2 linked regions of the Homo sapiens genome follow. The protein of the gene in region 1 interacts with the protein of each later gene in a biochemical or structural test. Each region holds a gene or a part of one and is shown on either strand. Other genes may lie near its edges. The genes, in order: MAFF and NFE2L1.

Evidence for each region.
Region 2: the proteins of MAFF (region 1) and NFE2L1 form a complex in vitro, tested with the Homo sapiens proteins (one study listed by BioGRID).

Annotation. Positions count from the first base shown.
Region 1 is NC_000022.11:38,194,455-38,207,080, forward strand, and holds the start of MAFF (transcription factor MafF), read left to right. Parts: upstream 1-7,539; 5' UTR 7,540-7,758; exon of another isoform or gene 7,759-7,784; intron 7,785-8,565; exon of another isoform or gene 8,566-8,630; intron 8,631-12,626. UniProt on the Homo sapiens protein: Since they lack a putative transactivation domain, the small Mafs behave as transcriptional repressors when they dimerize among themselves.
Region 2 is NC_000017.11:48,051,359-48,058,658, forward strand, and holds part of NFE2L1 (endoplasmic reticulum membrane sensor NFE2L1), read left to right. Parts: coding exon 1-270; intron 271-5,027; coding exon 5,028-5,240; intron 5,241-5,673; coding exon 5,674-5,763; intron 5,764-5,985; coding exon 5,986-6,144; intron 6,145-6,936; coding exon 6,937-7,300.

The sequences.
Region 1 (12,626 bases):
GAGGTAGGTTTAGGGCAAGACAAAGGACAGCCTCTGAAGGGACTGGGAGGGAGAGGGAAGGGCAGGTGCAGAGGGTCGAGGCAGTGCCTATCACATGGCCTCTGCTTCCTCTGGAAGTGGCAGGAGAGCAGGTTCGATGGAGATGAGGATGAAGGCCTGCGGATGAAGGAGAAAGGCGAGTACTCCAGGGATTCCTGGCAGCTCTGAGGATCTGGCTGTGACTGGAGAAGATGACCTTGTCGTGACCGCAGCTGTTGTTGCAGTGGTGGTTGTGGTCGCGATGGTGGCTTCTCTCCAGAAGCCAGAGCAGCTGGCATGCAGGAGTGAAGTGCACGGAGCAGCAGTGCCCCAGCGATGGTTTTACAGGCTTGGCACAAAAGGACTCAGACCAGGGCTGGCACATCTCCAGGTATATTGAAGCTGCTGGGGGTGGGGAGGGGGGGGAGGTTTTAGAGGGAAAATGATGGAGGGCTGGGGAAAAATGGAGCATGTGCAGTACTGTTTCAGGTTCCTAAAATATCAGTTTGCAAACATAAAAATGTATTCTCTAAAATAGGCAAAGCACACGAACAAAAGAAGAAAAAACCCAACTGGTTAACAAGCAAATGGGAATGTGTTCAAGCTCATTCCTATTCAGAGAAATGCAAATTTAAATACAATAACGTCATTTGCCTAGGAAATTAGCAGAGCTTAGACAATGAAAACTCCCAGTGTTGGTGAAGTGGAGACGAAAGGTTCATATTCACATGTGGGTGGGAAGGGCCCTTAGCAAATGGCTTCAGCCCTCCTAGCCTCGGTTTCCTCATCTATAAAGTGGGGATGATACAGATACTTCATAGAATTTTGTGAGATGACAGCTCTTAGGCACATAAATGTGATTCATAAGCAATAATACGCCTGTAGTCCCAGCTACTTGGGAGGCTGAGGCAGGAGAATGGCGGGAACCCGGGAGGTGGAGCTTGCAGTGAGCCGAGATCGGGCCACTGCCCTCCAGCCTGGGTGACAGAGCAAGACTCCGTCTCAAAACAAAAACAGTAACAGTAGGTACTGGGGTTGCTTGGATTTATTTTTATTTTTATTTTTTGAGACAGTCTTGCTCTGTCGCCCAGGCTGGAGTGCAGTGGTGAGATCTCAGCTCACTGCAACCTCCGCCTCCTGGGTTCAAGCGATTCTCCTGCCTTAACCTCCGGAGTAGCTGGGGCTACAGGCGCATGCCACCACACTGGGCTAATTGTTGTATTTTTTAGTAGAGACGAGAGTTTCACCATGTTGGCCAGGCTGGTCTCGAACTCCTGGCCTCAAGTGATCCACCTTGGCCTCCCAACATGCTGGGATTACAGGCATGAGCCACTGCGCCCGGCCCAATTGTTTGGGTTTGCTCAAACCTTTTTTCTCTCTGCTGAACAATCACATCTCCAGCCCAGACTCAGGACCCTTGTATTTGCAGAAAGTGGCCCTGGTCAAGAGTCACCCTCTGCCAGGCCCTGCCCGGTTTGCCTTAGGATTGACAAAGTAGAGGGAAGGGAAGAGGAGGAAGAAGGGGAGGAGGGCACAAGGTTCCTCCAGGATCCCACCCGGGGGTGCCCACGCGGAGAAATGGCGTGTGCTCTAATTATCGTCAGACTCTGAAGTGGCCCACGTGAAATATCGAATCTCTCCAGAACAAAACCCAGCAAATCATTCCGGCGGGGGCAGCAGGAGAGAGCGCAGCCCTCGAGTCGGACCAGCCTGAGTTTAAGTCCTTCTCTGCCAGGGACTAGCTGTGCAATACTGGGCAAGATTCCTCACCTGCCACGGTCTCGATTTCCTCATCTGCAACATGGCCATGATAATAGCTAAGTGCTAAGACATGGAGAGGATTGAGTGTGACCTGATACACGGGAGCACCACACCTGGCATCCAGGGTGTGGTCCCTTGGCCTCTGGGCGAACTGATCACTCTGTCCATTTCCTCTGCTTTTGACACCAGGGACCATTTCGTAGAAGACAACTTTTCCACAGATGAGGGTGGGGTGGGGGTGGAGAGTGGGGAGTGTGGGTGGGGGATGGTTTCGGGATGAAACTGTTCCAGTGGCCAGGCGCGGTGGCTCACGCCTGTAATCCCAGCACTTTGGGAGGCTGAGCGGGGCAGATCACCTGAGGTCAGGAGTTTGAGACCAGCCTGGCCAACATGGTGAAACCCCGTCTCTACTAAAAATACAAAAATTAGATGGGCGTGGTGGCGCGTGCCTGTAGTCCCAGCTACTTGGGGGAGGCTGAGGTGGGAGAATCAGTTGAACCCAAAAGGCGGAGGTTGCAGTGAGCCAAGATGGCTACACTGCACTCCAGCCTGGGGGATAGAGCGAGACTCTCTCCAAAAAAAAAAAAAAAAAAAGAAACTGTTCCACCTCAGGTCATCAGGCATATCTGGCCGTAGTTAGATTCTCACAAGGAGCACACAACCTGGATCCCTCAAAAGCGCAGTTCACAATAGGGTTCACGCTCCTAATGAGACTCCAATGCCAGTGCTGATCCTACAGGAGGCGGAGCTCAGGCGGTGACGCTCACTCAGCCCGCTGGTTCCTAACAGGCCACGGACAAACAGTACTGGTCCTCAGCCTGCGATTTGGGGACCCCTGCTGTAGAGGACTCCTCTCTCTAACCTGATATTATTGATCTTTTATTATATACTAAGCGCTGTGCCAGAGGCTTATAAGTGCAAACACATTATGTTGTTTCACAGCCTGCAAAGGAGGCACTATTAGCCCGGTTTATAGAGGGTGGAGATGACGTCAGCTGATGAGGCGTGGGGCCAGGATCTGAACCCGACAGGCTGACTTGAGAGTCCCTACTTTCAAAAAACAATTTTTTTTTTGAGACAGTCTCGCTCTGTCGCCCAGGCTGGAGTGCAATGGCGTGATCTCGGCTCACTGCAACCTCTGCCTCCCAGGTTCAAGCAATTCTCCTGCCTCAGCCTCCTGAGTAGCTAGGATTATAGGCATGTGCCACAACTCCCGACTAATTTTTTTTTTTTTAATTAAGTAGAGACAGGGTTTTGCATGTTGGCCAGGCTGGTCTCAAACTCCTGACCTCAAGTGATCTGCCTGCCTTGGCGTCCCAACGTGCTGGGATTACACTGCGCCTGGCCAAATTTTCTTTTCTTATAAGGACACTGGTCAGATTGGATTAGGGCCTACCGTATATATTTTAATTTACTTATGCCTTTTAAAACTTTATCTCCAAATACAGTCACATTCTGAGATTTTTAGGCATTAGGACTTCAACATACACATTTTAACATTATGAAATTCCACCCATAACACTATCTATCTATATGTATTATTTTCAGAACCATGTCAGAGTAAATTGCAAACATGATGCCTTTTACCTCTAAATACTCTAGTGGGCCAGGCACGGTGGCTCACACCTGTAATCCCAGCTCTTCAGGAGGCCGAGGCAGACAGATGACCTGAGGTCAGGAGTTCAAGACTAGCCTGGCCAACATGGTGAAACCCCCGTCTCTACAAAAATACAAAATTTAGCCGGGCATGATGGTGGGTGCCTGTAATCCCAGCTACTCAGGAGGCTGAGGCAGGAGAATCACTTGAACCCAGGAGGCAGAGGTTGCAGTGAGCCAAGGTCGCACCATTGCACTCCAGCCTGGGTGACAGAGCAAGACTCCATCTCAAAAAAATAAATAAATAAATAAATAAATAAATACTCCAGTGTATATTTCCTAAAATCAAGGACACATTCTCTTCTATGACCACAGGACAAGCATTGAAGCCAGGAAGTTGGGCATCCATGCAGTAATTACCTCATCTACAAACTCCGTGGCAATTTGCCCCTTACTGGTGATATTAACTTTGATCACTTAGCGAAGGTTGTGTCTGCCAAATTTCTCCACTGCAGAGTTATTATTTTTCCTTCCATAATTAATTATCATCTTGTGGGTAAATAACTTGAAACTATGTAAATACTTTCTCATCAAGCTTTCATATCCATTGGTGATTCTTGCTGCAACCCATGATTACTATGGTGGCTGCCTGATGGTCATTTCTTTTTTTTTTTTCTTCCTCTTCTTTTTTTAATAGAGACAAGATTTCGCCATATTGCCCAGGCTGGTCTCAAACTCCGGGCTCAAGTGATCCTCCTGCCTCGGTCTCCCAAAGTGCTGAGAATACAGGTGCGAGCCACCATGCCCAGCCTGAGCTCCCACTTTTAAATAGGACATTGCACCATGGCCCTTGATCTTGACCAGAAAGGGAGCTATGTCTATGGGAAGCAGTCCCTGCAGGGTGGATAATGAGGCACTGACCCCCTTGTTCTGGCAGGCTGGGGATGGGAGTAAAGGATCTAGGCAGCATGGTGTCCAGGAGTGTTGTTCAGGTCCACTGAGAATTCACTCACTAGCTGAGCACCTACAGTGTTCCAGGTGTGGCCCCAGCTCTTGAGAAGCTCATAAAAAAGGGAGTAGATTGGGAGGCTGAGGCAGAAGGAAGGCTTGAGGCCAAGGGTTCAAGATCAACCTATGCAATATGGTGAGACCTCCATCTCTGCAAAAAATAGAAAAATTATCCAGGCACAGTGATGCACACTTGTAGTCCCAACTACTCGGGAGGCTGAGGTGAGAGGATCGCTTGAGCCCAGAAGTTCAAGGCTGCAGTGAGCTATGATCATGCCACTGCACTCCAGCCTGGGCAACAGGGCAAGACCCTGTTTTGTTTTGTTTTGGTTTTGGTTTTAAAGGGGGTGGGGGGTAGAGAAAATAGACAACTCACCATTGTGCAGTTTCTAAAACTGAGAACTTTCCTACCCCAAAGGTTAACCTAGGTGGCTCTTTCTGCTATGCACATGGAGAGGACTGAGCAATTGGTTTTTAGAGATCCTTTTGAGTGCTAGACAAAGCTGCCTCAACATTTGGTCACTTGGGAAACTAGTGGGCCAATTTGCATACCAAACCCACAGCCTGTGGGAGGGAACGGAAAGAAGCCATAGTGTCTGGTGGACCAAGGCACAGAGGCAGGAAAGCAAGACAAGGGCGCTGAAATCGAATTTGCTACATCAAGGAAAGTGGGGGGCTGGGCGCGGTGGCTCACGCGTGTAATCCCAGCACTTTGGGAGGCCGAGGCGGGTGGATCACGAGGTCAGGAGATCGACACCACGGTGAAACCCCGTCTCTACTAAAAATACAAAAAAAAAAAATTAGGAGGGCGCGGTGGCGGGCGCCTGTAGTCCCAGCTACTCGGGAGGCTGAGGCTGGAGAATGGCGTGAACCCGGGAGGTGGAGCTTGCAGTGAGCTGAGATCGCGCCACTGCACTCCAGCCTGGGGCAACACAGCGAGACTCCGGCTCAAAAAAAAAAAAAAAAAAAGGAAAGTGGGGATCCTTACTGGTGATCAGGGTGCCACATAGAGGCCTACCCATTTGGAGAGGCCCTATGCCCTCCACAGTGGAGTAAGTGCCATGATGTCGGCTTCACAGGAGGGACTGTGGGAGCGATGGAATTTCAGGCAGTGGGAACATCATGAGCAAAGGAAAGCAGGGGATGAACAGCAACATCCACCCCGCACGTGGCCTCCAAAGCCATCTCTTTTGGGTGGGGCTTCCCACCACGGCGCACACCCCTCATGTTTATGTGGCCCTCCTCCCCTGGTTGCGATGTACCCCCAAACATCTGGGCCAGGAATCATTCAGACCTGGATACCAATTCCAGTGCTTGTACTTCCTAGCTGAGTGAATTTAGAAAGTCACCTTCACCTCTCTGAGCCTCCAGTCATGTATTCCTTCAACATGTATTTACTGTGGGCCTACTATGTGCCAAGCACTACTCCAGGCACTGGGCAGGCAGTGGTGAACAAGATAAGCCTGGCCAGGCGCAGTGGCTCATGTCTGCAATCCCAACACTTTGGGAGGCCGAGGTGGGTGGCCTGAGGTCAGGGGTTCAAAACCAGCCTGGCTGGGCATGGTGACTCACCTGTAGTCCAGCTACTGGGGGGCTGAATTCCTTGAACCTGGGAGGCGGAGGTTGCAGTGAGCCAAGATTATGCCACTGCACTCCAGCCTGGGCAACAGAGTGAGACTCTGTCTCAAAAAAAAAAAAAGAAAAAGAAAAAGAAGCAAGGCCTGCCTTCATAAAACATACATTCTGGTTGGGGAAGACAGACAATAACCAGCACTCACATACATAAATGATGAAACACCCTACAGAAGTATTAAGATAATATAAGAACAAATTTCAAGGCTGGGTGCGGTGGCTTGCGCCTGTAATCCCATTACTTTGGGAGGCCAGCGTGGGTGGATTGCCTGAGTCCAGGAGTTTGAGACCAGTTTGGGCAACATGGCAAAACCCTGTCTCTACAAAAAAAAAAAAAAAAAAAAAAAAAAAAAAATACAAAAAATGAACCTAGCATGGTGGTGTGTGCTTATGGTCCCAGCTACTTGGGAGGCTAAGGTGGGAGAATGGCTGGAGTCCAGGAGAAGGAGGTTGCAGTGAGCCGAGATTGTGCCACTGCACTCCAGCCTGGGTGACAGAGTGAGACCCTGTCTCGAAAAAAAAAAAAAAATTCAGAGGTGAAGACTGCTTTAACCAGGGTGGTCAGGAAATGTCTCTCTGAGGCAGTGACATCCGGGCTGACGTGAAAGATGAGAAAGAGTCAGGCAAGTGAACAGAAGACCAGACAGCCAGTGCCAAGGGCCTGTCGCAGGAATGAGCTTGGTATGTTTGGGGGACAGAAAGAAGGGCACTGTGGCCGAAGAGCAGTGGATGAGGAGAGAGTGGCCAAAGAAGGTGTGTAAACAACCTGAGCTTTGTTTTGAGAAGAACATTGGCTGGTATAGAAAGAAAGACTTTGGAGGCAAAGTAGGGAGCCTCGGAGGCTGCTGCCATTGTCCGGGTAAGCTGATGGTGCCGAGACCAGGTGCCATGACTGGAGGTGGTGAGAAATGGTCCTATGCAGGAGACCTGGAGACACCGCTAGCTTGAGTCCTGAGGTGGGGAGGAAGGGAGAGGGAGGGATGGAGCCAGGCTCCAAGGTTTTGGCTTGAGCAGCTGAGATGGGGTGGCAAGGGAGCAGAGGTAGGGCTGACGATCAGGAGCGGGTTTTTGGGCCGAGTCCTCTGCAGTGCCCATCTGACACCCACTGGATGCGCAGAGTGGGCAGCTGGCTATGAGTCTGGAACTCAGAGAAGCTGTTCGCTCCGGAAATACAAACCTGGGGCTCATAGCCATATAAATGTCATTTAAAGCCACGGGACTGGATGAGATCATTAAGGCAGAAGGTCTAGGTCGAAAGAAGAGGGCCAGGACCACTACCTGTAAAATGAGCCAATGACACCTACACCCACGGGGCTCTCGCGAGGTGTCACGTGAACGCACCCAGCGAGCCCTGGAACCAGGCAGAGAATCGCGGCAGCCCCGGGGGCGGGGCTTCCAGGGGGCGGGGTCATACGGGGGCGGGGCCGAGGGACCAAGCGGCCGCTCCTGGCCGGAGGGCGGCCGGGTCGGTGACGTCACCGCATGACTGGGTTTTTATGAATGAAAGGAATCCTGTGAGTGAGTAATTCCGGGAAGCTCGCCTTACAACTCCGCGCGGCCTCGGCCCCCTGCGCCGCCCGCCCCACAACAAAACTCAGCGCAGCGCTCCCGGGCGCCCGGTTCAGAGCGACCTGCGGCTCAGAGCGGAGGGGAGACTGACCGGAGCGCGGATCGGGACAGCGGCCGGGACAGCGGCGAGACGCGCGTGTGTGAGCGCGCCGGACCAAGCGGGCCCAGAAGCGGGTGAGGAACGCGGGACCAGGAGGACGGTGCGCGGGACCCCAAGGCGGCAGGGTTTCTGCGTCCCGGGATGCGCCTGGGGTGGGCGCCCGGGCCCGATCCGTCGGGGCTCCCGGAGCTCCATCGCCCGGACGGCTCGGGGCGGGGAGAAGGGAGCGGCCGTCCCGGGGACGCCGAGGACGGGGCCGAGGCCAGCTCGGGGGAGTGGGGGTGGAGACGGGGCCCCTTCCCGGGGCGCGGGCGGGTAGGCGGCGGCGCCGGGAGGAAGGGGCAGCGCAGGCCGGCGATCTCCGCGTCCGCCCGGCGGGGGCGGGGGCGCTGTGCTCCTACGTGACTCGGTGGGAACAGGCCCTGGCCCGGCGCCCGCGGGCGGTGCGTGCGCGGTTTGTTTACGTCCGAGGGCGGGCGTGTGTTCCCTGGCGGGCGGCCTGGGTATCCTGCCCGGTGCGTGCGTGCGCTGTGTACCTCGGGGGCGTGTGTGCGTGTGTTGTGCTTGTGTGTGCGTGTCCGCGCGCGCGCTCCCTGGGGCCTGTACACCAGCAGTGTGTACCTCGGAGAGGGCGTGCCCTGGGCCGGCCACCGGAGTAAACGCGGAACAAGGACCCGAGCGAAGGAAGCGGACCCGTGCGTCTTCGCACGGGGTCTGGGAATTCTGGCCCGGGCCGCCCCAGTCCTACTACCCGGGGCTGTCCGTCCCCGGCTCTCCCCGGAGTTTCCCAGGGCCTCCGCCACGTGACCCCAGTGTTTGTCTCCCGCCCAGAGCCCGCGCCCGCAGCCACAGGGTGGGGCAAGGTATCAAAGACCCCACCCAGCTGAGCTAGGAGTGAGGGATGTGAGCCACCCCCGCTTGGCACCCCGGTGGATCTGGTAACAAAGTGAGTTGGAGCCCAGGTTCTTGTCCCCAGATTTTGGGGCTTCCTGGGGAGGGAAGAACCAAGGGACTCTCGTTCGTCCCCAGGGTTGCCCATCCCCTCAGTCCCATGAGAACAGGAAGGGCCAGAAAACCTTGACTGCAAGGGTGCGGCGCAGGGAGAGGACCACAGGCTTTTAGCTAGTCCGGGTTCTGGAGGCTGTACCTGCTAGGTCGTGGAGGATGGGGCGGAGCCGGTTTCCGCTCTCCTGGTAGTTTCAGTTCACAAGTGGGACTGGTGAGACTAGACTGACCTACAGCTGGACGCCGGAAGCTAGCTGAGGCTCTGAGCCAGCCGACAGACCCCGAGTGCCCTCACCCTGGGCCAGGCAGGGTCAGTAGGCATTGGGGATAGAACTCTGACTGCACGGAGGGTTAATGAGTGAGGGGTGGGGCCTGACCTAGCCGCCACCCACCCACTCACCCAATAGCCCTGCAGAAAGCACCTGTTTGTCGTAGCCGCCTGCAGGATGGGCTGGGGGCTAGAGATTCCTTGGTCTTAATCCACCTTCCCCCTCCACCCACCCACCCACGGTCTATGGAATTGTGGGAGGGGAGCAATTGAACTTGCTAGGGTGAGGAACCAATGATCTTTTGACTTTGGATCTTTGAACCCTGGGTGAGCTCTGCTACAGCAGCCCGGACCCTCAGTATTCCCATCTACCACTGGGAACTAGGTAACAGCCAGGATGGCAGGATGGTGGGTAGAAGGGGGAAGCTCTGGAAGTCTGTGCAGACAGCGTATTTTCCAGGTGAATTGTGGAAGAGAAAGCAGGGCTGACAGCCCCATGCCAGGAGCTGGGGGTACCCAAGAGTAGGTGGGGTTTGAGTCAGGAGGGTTGGGGCCAGGAGCACAGGAACCAGACAGGCCCACCCTCAAAGCTGGGCAGGAAACATTACAAAGTAGGGCCTGGGGTCAGGGGATGAGGGGAAGTGGCTGGTTGACTCAGTCCCAGATGGAAAGTTAGCACTGAGAAGTTTAACTTCCCATTGAATCACCCCTGGGCCCTGCATTGCCATTGGGCCCTTGTCCTGGACCAGATGCCAGGGATGAGATGAACAGACCAGATCCAGAGACTGCCCTCTGGGAGCTTATAGCTCAGCAGCGGACACAAACTTGAAAAAAGATCCACAGAAGTAAATGCAAAACACAGCTTAGATGGGTGATGTGAGGGAGAAGTCACTGTGGTTTGAAAGTACATAACAGCGCTCTGACTTAGCCAGGGCAATCAAGGAAGGCTTCCCTGGGGAGGTGACTAGTGTGCTGAGTCTGATAGAGTGGTGGTTGTCTGTGAAGCCCTTGAAGGCAGGAGCTGTGATTCACTTCAGGGTCTCCAGGGCCCAGCACAGAGCCTGGAACATAGTAGGTGCTTCTTGGATGTTTGCTGATTGAATGAATGAGCCCTGGATCCCTGCCCTCTAAGAGCTCCACAACACATGGAGAAAAAGGCCTGGGAACCCCAGAGAAACAGGAAGCCAGGGCAGGGGCTGGGGGAATCTTGAAGCAGTCTCCCAAAAGCGAGCAAATCCTTCAGGACTCAGGCAACTTCCTCCCTCACACACACAGGCATGCACTGCCCGCTTGTCCCTTTGGGAAACATTCAGGGATAGTAGAATTTGCTGTCTGTTCATTCATCTGTTAGCATACGATCCTGGGAGAGAGTGGACAGGAATACGGTTGAGGCCTGAGGACCCTACTGTGTTGGCTTGCGGGGAGGCTGGCATTGCAGGGTTTTGAAATGGGCCAAGCACGGACAGGCTCGTGGGTTTGTGTCAGTAGTGATTCCTCTGACAGCTCTTGGGGGAGGATCAATGATGGGGATTGGAGACGGAGGGCAAGGCAAGAGGCTGGTGAGCAGGCGGTTGTGGTCATGGTCCAGATGAAGGAGGAAGTGGTCTGTGGCTGTGCAGGTGGAGAAGAGGGCTAGTCTGATAGTCTGATAGTTTGTGTCTCATGCCCCCACCTCCAGGAAGCCTTCACCGCTTTCCTTTCCCTACCTCCATTCTGCTGGTGGTCTTGGAGCTCTGGGCCAGAATCTGAAACTCTAAACTCAGAGACAGTCATTGTTGGAAGGTACCTTAGGCTCGGAGGACGTTTGGCATAGTGGGAAAACTGAGGCCCAGAGAGAGGGAGTGCCGTACCTGAGGCCACACAGCGAGTGTGAGAGGGTACCTGAACTGGGGCTGGAACCCCAGGCCGTTGCTTCTCTGTGGTGCTTGGTTCTTCCAGCCTTGCTCCCCTTCCAGCAGGGAGGAGGCTCCAGCAGTGCTGACTGCCAAGAGCTAGGAAAACACATTTTTTCCCTGTCCTCACAGAGCGAGCAGAATGGCTCAGCAGCCAGAAAGGAGCCCATGCCAGCGGGTGGGCCTTCTACAGGATGTCTCTGGAGTGGACTGGTGGGGCCAGGGAGGGGGACGTTGGAGGGTTGTGGCTGCTGACTGGACAAGGCAGTTGTCAGTCCCTCAAGAGTCACCTCTCTCCTTATGCCTCCAGAAGACGTCATGAACCTGCAGACCCTGGAGGTCAGCTCTGCTGGCTTCCAAGGGAAGAAGCCAGGGAGAGGTGGTGGTGGCCGACATAGAAGACAGAGGACCCCTGGGTTCCAGTCCGCCACGGCTACCAAACAGTGGCTTGGTTGCCTCAGGTGCTGAACAGGGGATCGGATCAGCTACTATTTCTCAGGCCCAGGGTCAGCCAGCCTGGCAAAGGCAGAGGACCCAGGCCCCTTGGCAGCCCCTGGCCTGGGGTTGGCAGCGGAAAGCCTGAGGTTACCAGAAAGTTCCCCCTTCTTGTGACTTTCCCCCTGTGATTGCCTGACTGCTGAGCTAGGACATTCCTGGGCAAACGTGGGTGCCTCAGCTGACATCCAGGATGCGGTTGAGGGGGCTGAGGCTCGGACAGGAGGGCATGGAGGAGTGGGGGAAGAGCAGGTTCAAAACCTTCCTAGCACCTGAGGGTATTTACAATCACAGCCAGCTTCCGCTATTATCAAGGATAGGGAATGGCTGATGGTTCCATCTCTCAGGCCTGGTCTGGAGGCAGTGTTGAGGATTCTAGGCTGTGTCCAAGCTCAGGAGAAAACAGTTCTGTGCTGAGAAAGACTCAGGGGCTGTGGCCTGCCTCACTGGGAATTGGTGCTGTGTGTGGTTAGTGATGTCTCTGTTGCTTGTGGATAGTGGGATGATGGTGAGATGAGGTGATCTTTCTTGCCTATGCCTCCTTTTTTTTTTTTTTTTTTTTTGATGGAGTCTCGCTCTGTTGCCCAGGCTGGAGTCCAGTGGCTTGTTCTCAGCTCACTGAAACCTCCACCTCCCGGGTTCATGCAATTCTTCTGCCTCAGCCTCCCAAGTAGCTGGGACTATAGGTGTGCGCCACCACACCTGGCTAATTTTTGCATTTTTTTTTTTCTTTAGTAGAGACAGGATTTCACCATGTTGGCCAGGCCGTTCTTGAACTCCTGGCCTCAGATGATCTGCCCACCTTGGCCTCCCAAAGTGCTGGGATTACAGGCGTGAGCCACCACGCCTGGCCTTGCCTAAGCCTTTATATTTTACACACCAAGATTATTGTGATTATTCCCACTTAGCAAGGAATCCAGGACTCAGGAAAAATGACTTGTGCATGAGGCCAGACTGTGCCTCTGAGGTTCTGTATCAGCCGCAACACCCAAAGGGCAGTTGATTAACTTGCGTGGGGAGAGGCTTCCCTTCTCCCATTGGGTCTTTCTGTGTAGCTCAGGTGGCCAAGCATCACTGCACGTGCCAGCTCCCCAAACGGCTGGTAAGGGGGCCTGGATACTTAACTGTAACTTGCAAATCGTATCCCTAGCGGGCCCAACACAAATCCTGGAGAATCAGAGCTGGGGTGGCCTTGGAAACTGGCAAGTCCAGCTTCATCTTCACAGGGCTAGGGAAACAGGGCCCAGGGAGGTCGCCCTGCCAGGGCCACACAGGGAGGAGG
Region 2 (7,300 bases), on another chromosome or scaffold:
CGGCGGCTCCTCAGTCAGGTGAGGGCCCTGGACAGGTTCCAGGTGCCAACCACTGAGGTAAATGCCTGGCTGGTTCACCGAGACCCAGAGGGGTCTGTCTCTGGCAGTCAGCCCAACTCAGGCCTCGCCCTCGAGAGTTCCAGTGGCCTCCAAGATGTGACAGGCCCAGACAACGGGGTGCGAGAAAGCGAAACGGAGCAGGGATTCGGTGAAGATTTGGAGGATTTGGGGGCTGTAGCCCCCCCAGTCAGTGGAGACTTAACCAAAGAGGTTAGTGGACCTGTGGTGGGTGTGTGGGGCCTGGGGCTTGGGGGTGGGCTGGTCCCAAAGGATTGTGGTCAGAACACTGAGCCCTGTAAAGAGCCAGACAGGTTTCAGCAGGGCCTCAGGCACTGTTCTTGGGTAGGGATGGGCTGAACTTTCTGACTTTAGGATTGGGGGCTGGGAGCATTTCCCTGTGTTGAACCATTGACCTACCTCTAAATGTACTGTCAGGGCAGTGGGAGGTTCCTACACATGCCAGGGTGTTTACTGCTTGGATTTCAGCGTGACTGCTGGAGGCCTGGGGTGGGGGAGGAGTCATGTTGTGATGGGCTTTGATGCAGTGTACATCTGTTGCTAAGACACAAATACTTTTTGGACTCTTGTTTTGTACCTCCCCCCACATCAGAACACAGACATACCCTGAAGTTCTCCTTTGTGGCGAGGCCTGTTGTTGTATTGTCCTGATAATTCAGACCTCCTGGGCCTGAGCCAAAGGGTAGATTTGGATAGTTATTCTTGGCCAGGAGAGGGCCAAGGCTTCCAATCTTTGCAAAAGGCCCACTGCAGGGAGTAGGGAAGAGAAGTCTGGGAGCTAGAAAGAGAAACTGCATTCTGCTGCCCAAGTCAACTTGCTTTGAGCTGTCAGAAGAGATCCTTAGCTCTTGTCACATGGCTGACATACTGTTCTGGGCAGAAAGCGATGCAGTTCTTTGCCTTTCAAGATGTGAATGGCTGCTGCTGCCCCTGCCTCACCAACATAAGATTGCTTTGAGCTCTGGGTTTGTATGGCTCTCGCTTGCCATCCAGCCTTAAGTAGCCGGGAAAGAGGCCCACTGCACTCCCCTGGCCATTAGGGAAGGAGAAAGCCCGATTGGGTTTTTGGAGGTGGCATGTGAAGGAATGTAAAAAGTTTTACAGATGTTACAGAAATGGGCTTCTCTGCCTGCCAGGTCAGACCACGTTTTCCCTCCTTCCCTGCTCTGTAGTCTTTTCCTGAGCTTAGTTCTCTGACTGTTAGTGACTGTCAAAGAGTATGGCTTGTTCTAGGCCAGTGGTCCTCAACTGGGGGTGATTTTGTCCCCGAGGGTGCAGGTGGCAATATCGTGAAACAGTTTTGGTTGTCACATCTTGGGGCGGGGTTGCTACTGGCACCTAGTGGGTAGGGGCCAAGGATGCTGGTTAACATCTTGAATGGCACAGAACACCTTCAAACAACAGATTTGTCTGACCCCAAGTGTCAGTAGTGCAGGGATTGAGACACTCGGCTCTGTGCTCAAATGGCTCATACTGGACCTGCTTTGAGAGAGACTAGGATTATCTGAGCGCAGGAGCCAGGAACATTTCTTACCTTTCAGGGCCTGTTAATTTAGCTTCTTACAGGGCCACTTGGAACTTCACCTCTCTTCTGCTTCCCCTTTCCTTCAAGTGGGCTCTAATCTTGGCACAGTGTTCTGAAGTGTGCTTCCCAGTCTCTGCTCTATGCTCCTCCCCCAGGGTAGCTCCCCCAGGGGTGGGTGTAACTGGGTTTGCTCCTGGAAACCCTGCAGGGTAGCTGCATATCTGTTCCTGCTGGGATGGGATGGGATATTTTGGATATTATTGGGTGGGTTGGGGCCGAATGGGATGGGACTTTGACCCTGCTTTCCTCTGTTTCTTGGCCCTCGTGAAGGTTGTGCTTTTCCTCATCTCAGGCCTTTATAACTCCCTTTGGGAGGTGGGGTGGGTCAGCATTAGGGGCCCAGGCTGGGTATGGGGGAAGGGAGGATTATTATGTGTCTAGAACAACATTTCCTCAGCAACTCAGGGATAAAAATACCCAGGTCCAGAGCATGTGACAGGCACTGCTGGAACCGGTATTATCCCTGGGGTGGCAGTACTCCCCCGCTGCCAGGCCTGCTCTATGGACAGCCATAGCCTAGGCTGTTGTCAGGGATAGGATTCCCCTTGAGATTGGCATTCTGCCCAGAGCAGGGGGGTGGCCTGTTTACAGCTCTTTCCAGGCTAGGAGCTGACTGTGACCAGAGAGAACATACTGTCTCTCTGACCTGACCTTAGGCTCCAGGGGAGCAGCAGTGGGGAGGGAGCTAAATTTCCCCTCGAGAAACCAATCCAGGGAGTCTGAATTGTGATACTGAGTCTGTGAGGGGCTTCTTTCCTGCTTGGATGAGATATGGGCCAGGAATCAGGCAGAGAATGCTCTTGAATAAAGCCGGGGTGAAAGGGGAGGGGGGACATTTGTGGCCAGGAGAATGCAGAGCACCTGTCTCCCTAAGTATGGGGCTTCAGGGTTGTGTCTCCCCTCCTCTTGCTTGGGGCTAGGCTTGGCCAGCACTGTGACATTGCTGCACGTGGGCAAAATGGCCTTCCCCTTTTCTCTAGTCTGGCCTATTTTGGGGTGACAAAACTTACGGCTTATGGTGGGCCTGGGTGCCCTGGGTTCCTGCCCAGCCTGGCTCGTGATCCCTGGCCTTGAGAACTGGCCACTGCCTTCCTGAGGAATGGGATAACTCTTTCCACTTCCAGCAAATAATTTAGATTCCCAGAGAATCTGCGGGAGAAGTGTCTGCCCAGTCCTGAGTGGGCTGGATGAGCAAGATGCGACAGGAGGGAGGAGAGTGGCACCCCTTCCCCCAGGGCTCTCACTGCGCCACCCCAGCTGACTGACTGGGCTGGGTGGGGCTGCCCGCCCCTGGGCGCATCTCCTCAAGGAGACGGAGGCGGCCCAGGGATGGGCTGGTTCCTTGCGGCAGCTTCTCCAGCTGCCCTGATGCAGAGATTGGCTCCCGTCTGCAGCTAGGTAACAGGCGGTGGGAGGGGATTGGCTCCTTCCGCATCTCCAGCGGAGACTTGGGGGAGGAGATTGGCTCTCGGCGCAGCCTAGGTAACGACAGTGGGAGGGGATTGGCTCTTTGCGCAGCCCAGCTGCTGACCTGGGGGAGGGGATTGGCTCTCTGCAGCCTCAGCAGTGACCTGCGGGGTGGGAGGGGGTGGGGATTGGCTCCCTGCTGCAGCCTAGGTAACAAGTTTGGGGGGCGTGGGGGGGAGGAGCGGGAGGATAGGCCCAGGAGGGAGCTTGCTTTCCTCTGCAGCTTGAGCACGGAGCATGGGGTGGGAGTCCCATCTCACTGCAGCCTCTGCGGTGAGCTCAGGGTGGGGGCAGCTGGGCGCCTGAGTGGAACTGGGGTTGTGAGGTGGGAGGGGGCTGCTCAAGGATGGAGGAAGGGGGCTGGCTGGGCCGCCCAGGCAGCAGCACGGGCGGGGCACCCTCCTCAGGCCCCTCGGAGCTAGCAAGGGGCCACCCTTCCAGCCTGGTGTGCTCCCTGAAAGCCAAGAGCTCCTTGCAGCCCCCTGTCCGGCTTCCCGGCACCGGCTGCCCTGGGGCTCATCTCGCAGACCATGACCCGCCTGGACCGCAGCTCTCACAGTGGTGGGGGCCATGCCAAAGGCAGCCGGCCCCTTAACTCTTTGCTGGCTGGTCACCGGGTGGCCCAGCCCGCCTCTGCTCCTGGGTCCAGGGCTTCTGTTCAGGTTGGTGTATGTGGGGAGACTAAAGTAGTACGTCTGGGAGGTCTTAGGGTCAGGGGGGGTTAATGGGAGAAGAATACCGACTTAGAGGTAGGGAGGAGGGTCTGATCTAAGGAAATTGCTTTCTGGAAAGTGTATGTCTGCATTTTAACCCCTGGATGGAAGGCAACACTTTAGGGTTTCTTCAGGCTTGTAGGGAGGGCTCGACTACAGGGGGGTGCCATGTATAGGAAGCCCAAATAGCTCTATTTATTGGGGTTATATGCTGTTAGTGGGGGTGGCAGTTGGTGCAGCAACTGTTCACGAGCCACCAGGGTAGAGCGGGAGGGAAGCATTTTTGGTGCCCAAGGTGGCAGTTGTAGCTGAGCAGTGATGGGGTTTATGTCCTTGAGGGGGTTGACTGATGGGGATTTGGTGAGTCCTGGGGTATGGTGAGGGAATGAGAGCACTGGTGTAGGGGACACAGTGAGGCTGGCCCGAGCAGGGGGTGGGGTGCACCCCTGGGGATCATCTGACTGCCTGAGCCTCCCTGGAATGGAGGCAGCAGCTAGGATCAGCTGAGAGGGAATTCTGGCGGGGATGAGTCTTGAGGTGAGCCTGGGCTTGAGGAGTTGTGGGTGTTCAGCCTTACTCTTGCTGCCAGCTGGGGAATGGGGAATGGCTATAGGAAGGGCTGGAGACAGCATGGCGTTGTCATTGGTTGCATCAGGTGGTTGGAAATGCAGGGATTTTCCTCTCTAGCCCACCCCACCCCTTTATGCAAATGAAATGGTACCACAGGCTGATGCAAGCCTGGCCACTGCTAAGTAATTCTGCATGACAATTCGCTCTTGCTTGCCATGGCCAGCTTCCTCCAAACCAAGTTTTAAGGGGTCCAATCCCCAAAGCTAGAGGTGTCTCCTGATGTTCCCCTTCTTTCTTATGTAGGGGGGAGGCGGCCCTGCCTTTTGTCTGGGTGTGTCTTGGTCCAGATCCTAATCCTTTGCACCCTTATGGTGATAGTCACACTAATGGTTTTGCTAGTGGCTCTTTTTTTTTGTGGGAAGGGGATAGTGTCTGGAAGTAGATGAATGAACACTTGCTGGTGCAGGGACCAGGGGGTAAAGGCTGGCAGGTGAAGAGCTGGGAGGGGCCCCACCCAGGACTAACTGGGGTGACACTAGGAGGGAACTCTGAGGGGCAGGACAAGGAAGGGACCTTGGGATCTTAGAGCTAAAGTCATGTGATCTGTCTTTCAGGACATAGATCTGATTGACATCCTTTGGCGACAGGATATTGATCTGGGGGCTGGGCGTGAGGTTTTTGACTATAGTCACCGCCAGAAGGAGCAGGATGTGGAGAAGGAGCTGCGAGATGGAGGCGAGCAGGACACCTGGGCAGGCGAGGGCGCGGAAGCTCTGGCACGGAACCTGCTAGTGGATGGAGAGACTGGGGAGAGCTTCCCTGCACAGGTACCATCGCCCCTGCTCACTGGGCTCTCTTCTTGTCCCTACTACCCTGACACAAACCAGGCTGGAGTTCTTCCAGAAACTTCCTTTAGAGAAGACAGGTGGTGTGTGGGGTGGACCTGAATTTCTGTTTTGGGTTGGGGTCTGTAAGTCACAGTGGCTGAGCCTTGGAAGGGGGGAGTGGAAAGCAGCAGATGCAGAATGGCCAGGCCGTGGCAACAGACAGTGCAAGGGAGGCAGAGCATGTAGCATCTTCCTGCTTGCTTCAGGACTCTTTCACTCTCTTCTGTTGTTTCTGGGAGTTTGGGACTCGGGGCCAGCCATTAGCCTGGGAATGGGAGGGAGACTGCAGGGCTTCAGCCATTCTGGGAAAGAAGCTTCAGCCCCAGGCAGCCAAGGCCCAGGTCAATCAGACTTACAGTTCCTGTTGCCACAGGTGCCTAGTGGGGAGGACCAGACGGCCCTGTCCCTGGAAGAGTGCCTTAGGCTGCTGGAAGCCACCTGCCCCTTTGGGGAGAATGCTGAGGTGAGCAGGACTCCAGTGAGAGTCCACCAAGTGAGCAGGGCAGCCTGTACCTGGTGTGTCCCTCCATGGCTGAGGGGCCAGCTGTTGGTTCTGGCCTTATTCTGGCTGCTGGGGGTAAATGCAGAGGAAGGAAGAACAGAAACAGGTCCAGGTGGTAATCTCTGGGAGGAAAGCACAAGGTTTTTCCTTCCCCCTTGTTAAAGCCTCTGTGTTTTGCCCTAGTTTCCAGCAGACATTTCCAGCATAACAGAAGCAGTGCCTAGTGAGAGTGAGCCCCCTGCTCTTCAAAACAACCTCTTGTCTCCTCTTCTGACCGGGACAGAGTCACCATTTGATTTGGAACAGCAGTGGCAAGATCTCATGTCCATCATGGAAATGCAGGTAGGATTGTCGGAACCGGGCACAAACCTATTGGATTTTGCACAGATTGTCTTAGCACTCAGTTGCTTTTCCATCTCCAAGGAGAGAAAGTGTAATACTTTCCCTGAATCATAGAGAAGTGGGGACAATGAGAAGAAACCTGTCCAGGTGTGTCCTTGGGGCAATGGGAGCTGGAGACAGGTAGGGTTTGGGTTAAATAAAACTCAGGACTCAGCCTTCCAAATCAGGGCCTGCCTCCTGGGTGTGCCTTCTTCCTTTCCTTCAGGCAGATAGGCACTTGGCTGAATGCTTCCAAGGTTGTGCGTTAATAATAGCTGACATTCACATGGTGCTTCACAGCCATCGTTCGCTCACTTGGCCCTCACAGTCATCTAGTCAGCCTTTATCTCAAAGGTGAGGAAATTGAAGCTCAGAGGTTAAATGATGTGCCCATCGTCACACAGCAAGTGGTGCAGCTAGGTTTTCTGACTTAAGTCTGGGTGTTCTTTTCACTGTGCTGATTTTGCAGTAACAAGGTAGTGTTTTCTTCCTCTCCCTCCAAGATGGGGGAGTCTGGCCAAACATGAGGAAAAGCTGATCAGTCCTATATTAGGGTGGAGCCTACATGGAAGAACCCATCTCTGCCAGGCCTGGTGGACGAAGCTGGGTCAGGAGCTGACACTGTGGGCTTTGGTTTATAGTATTTTGCCTTTACACCCATGCAGCTGTGCCTCTGTTGGGTGCCTGCAGTGTGTGAGCCCCAGGGGAGGGAGTCAGTTCCTAGTGAACAGTGGTGCTCTTCTCCCCTCCCAGGCCATGGAAGTGAACACATCAGCAAGTGAAATCCTGTACAGTGCCCCTCCTGGAGACCCACTGAGCACCAACTACAGCCTTGCCCCCAACACTCCCATCAATCAGAATGTCAGCCTGCATCAGGCGTCCCTGGGGGGCTGCAGCCAGGACTTCTTACTCTTCAGCCCCGAGGTGGAAAGCCTGCCTGTGGCCAGTAGCTCCACGCTGCTCCCGTTGGCCCCCAGCAATTCTACCAGCCTCAACTCCACCTTCGGCTCCACCAACCTGACAGGGCTCTTCTTTCCACCCCAGCTCAATGGCACAGCCAATGACACAGCAGGCCCAGAGCTGCCTGACCCTTTGGGGGGTCTGTTAGATGAAGCTA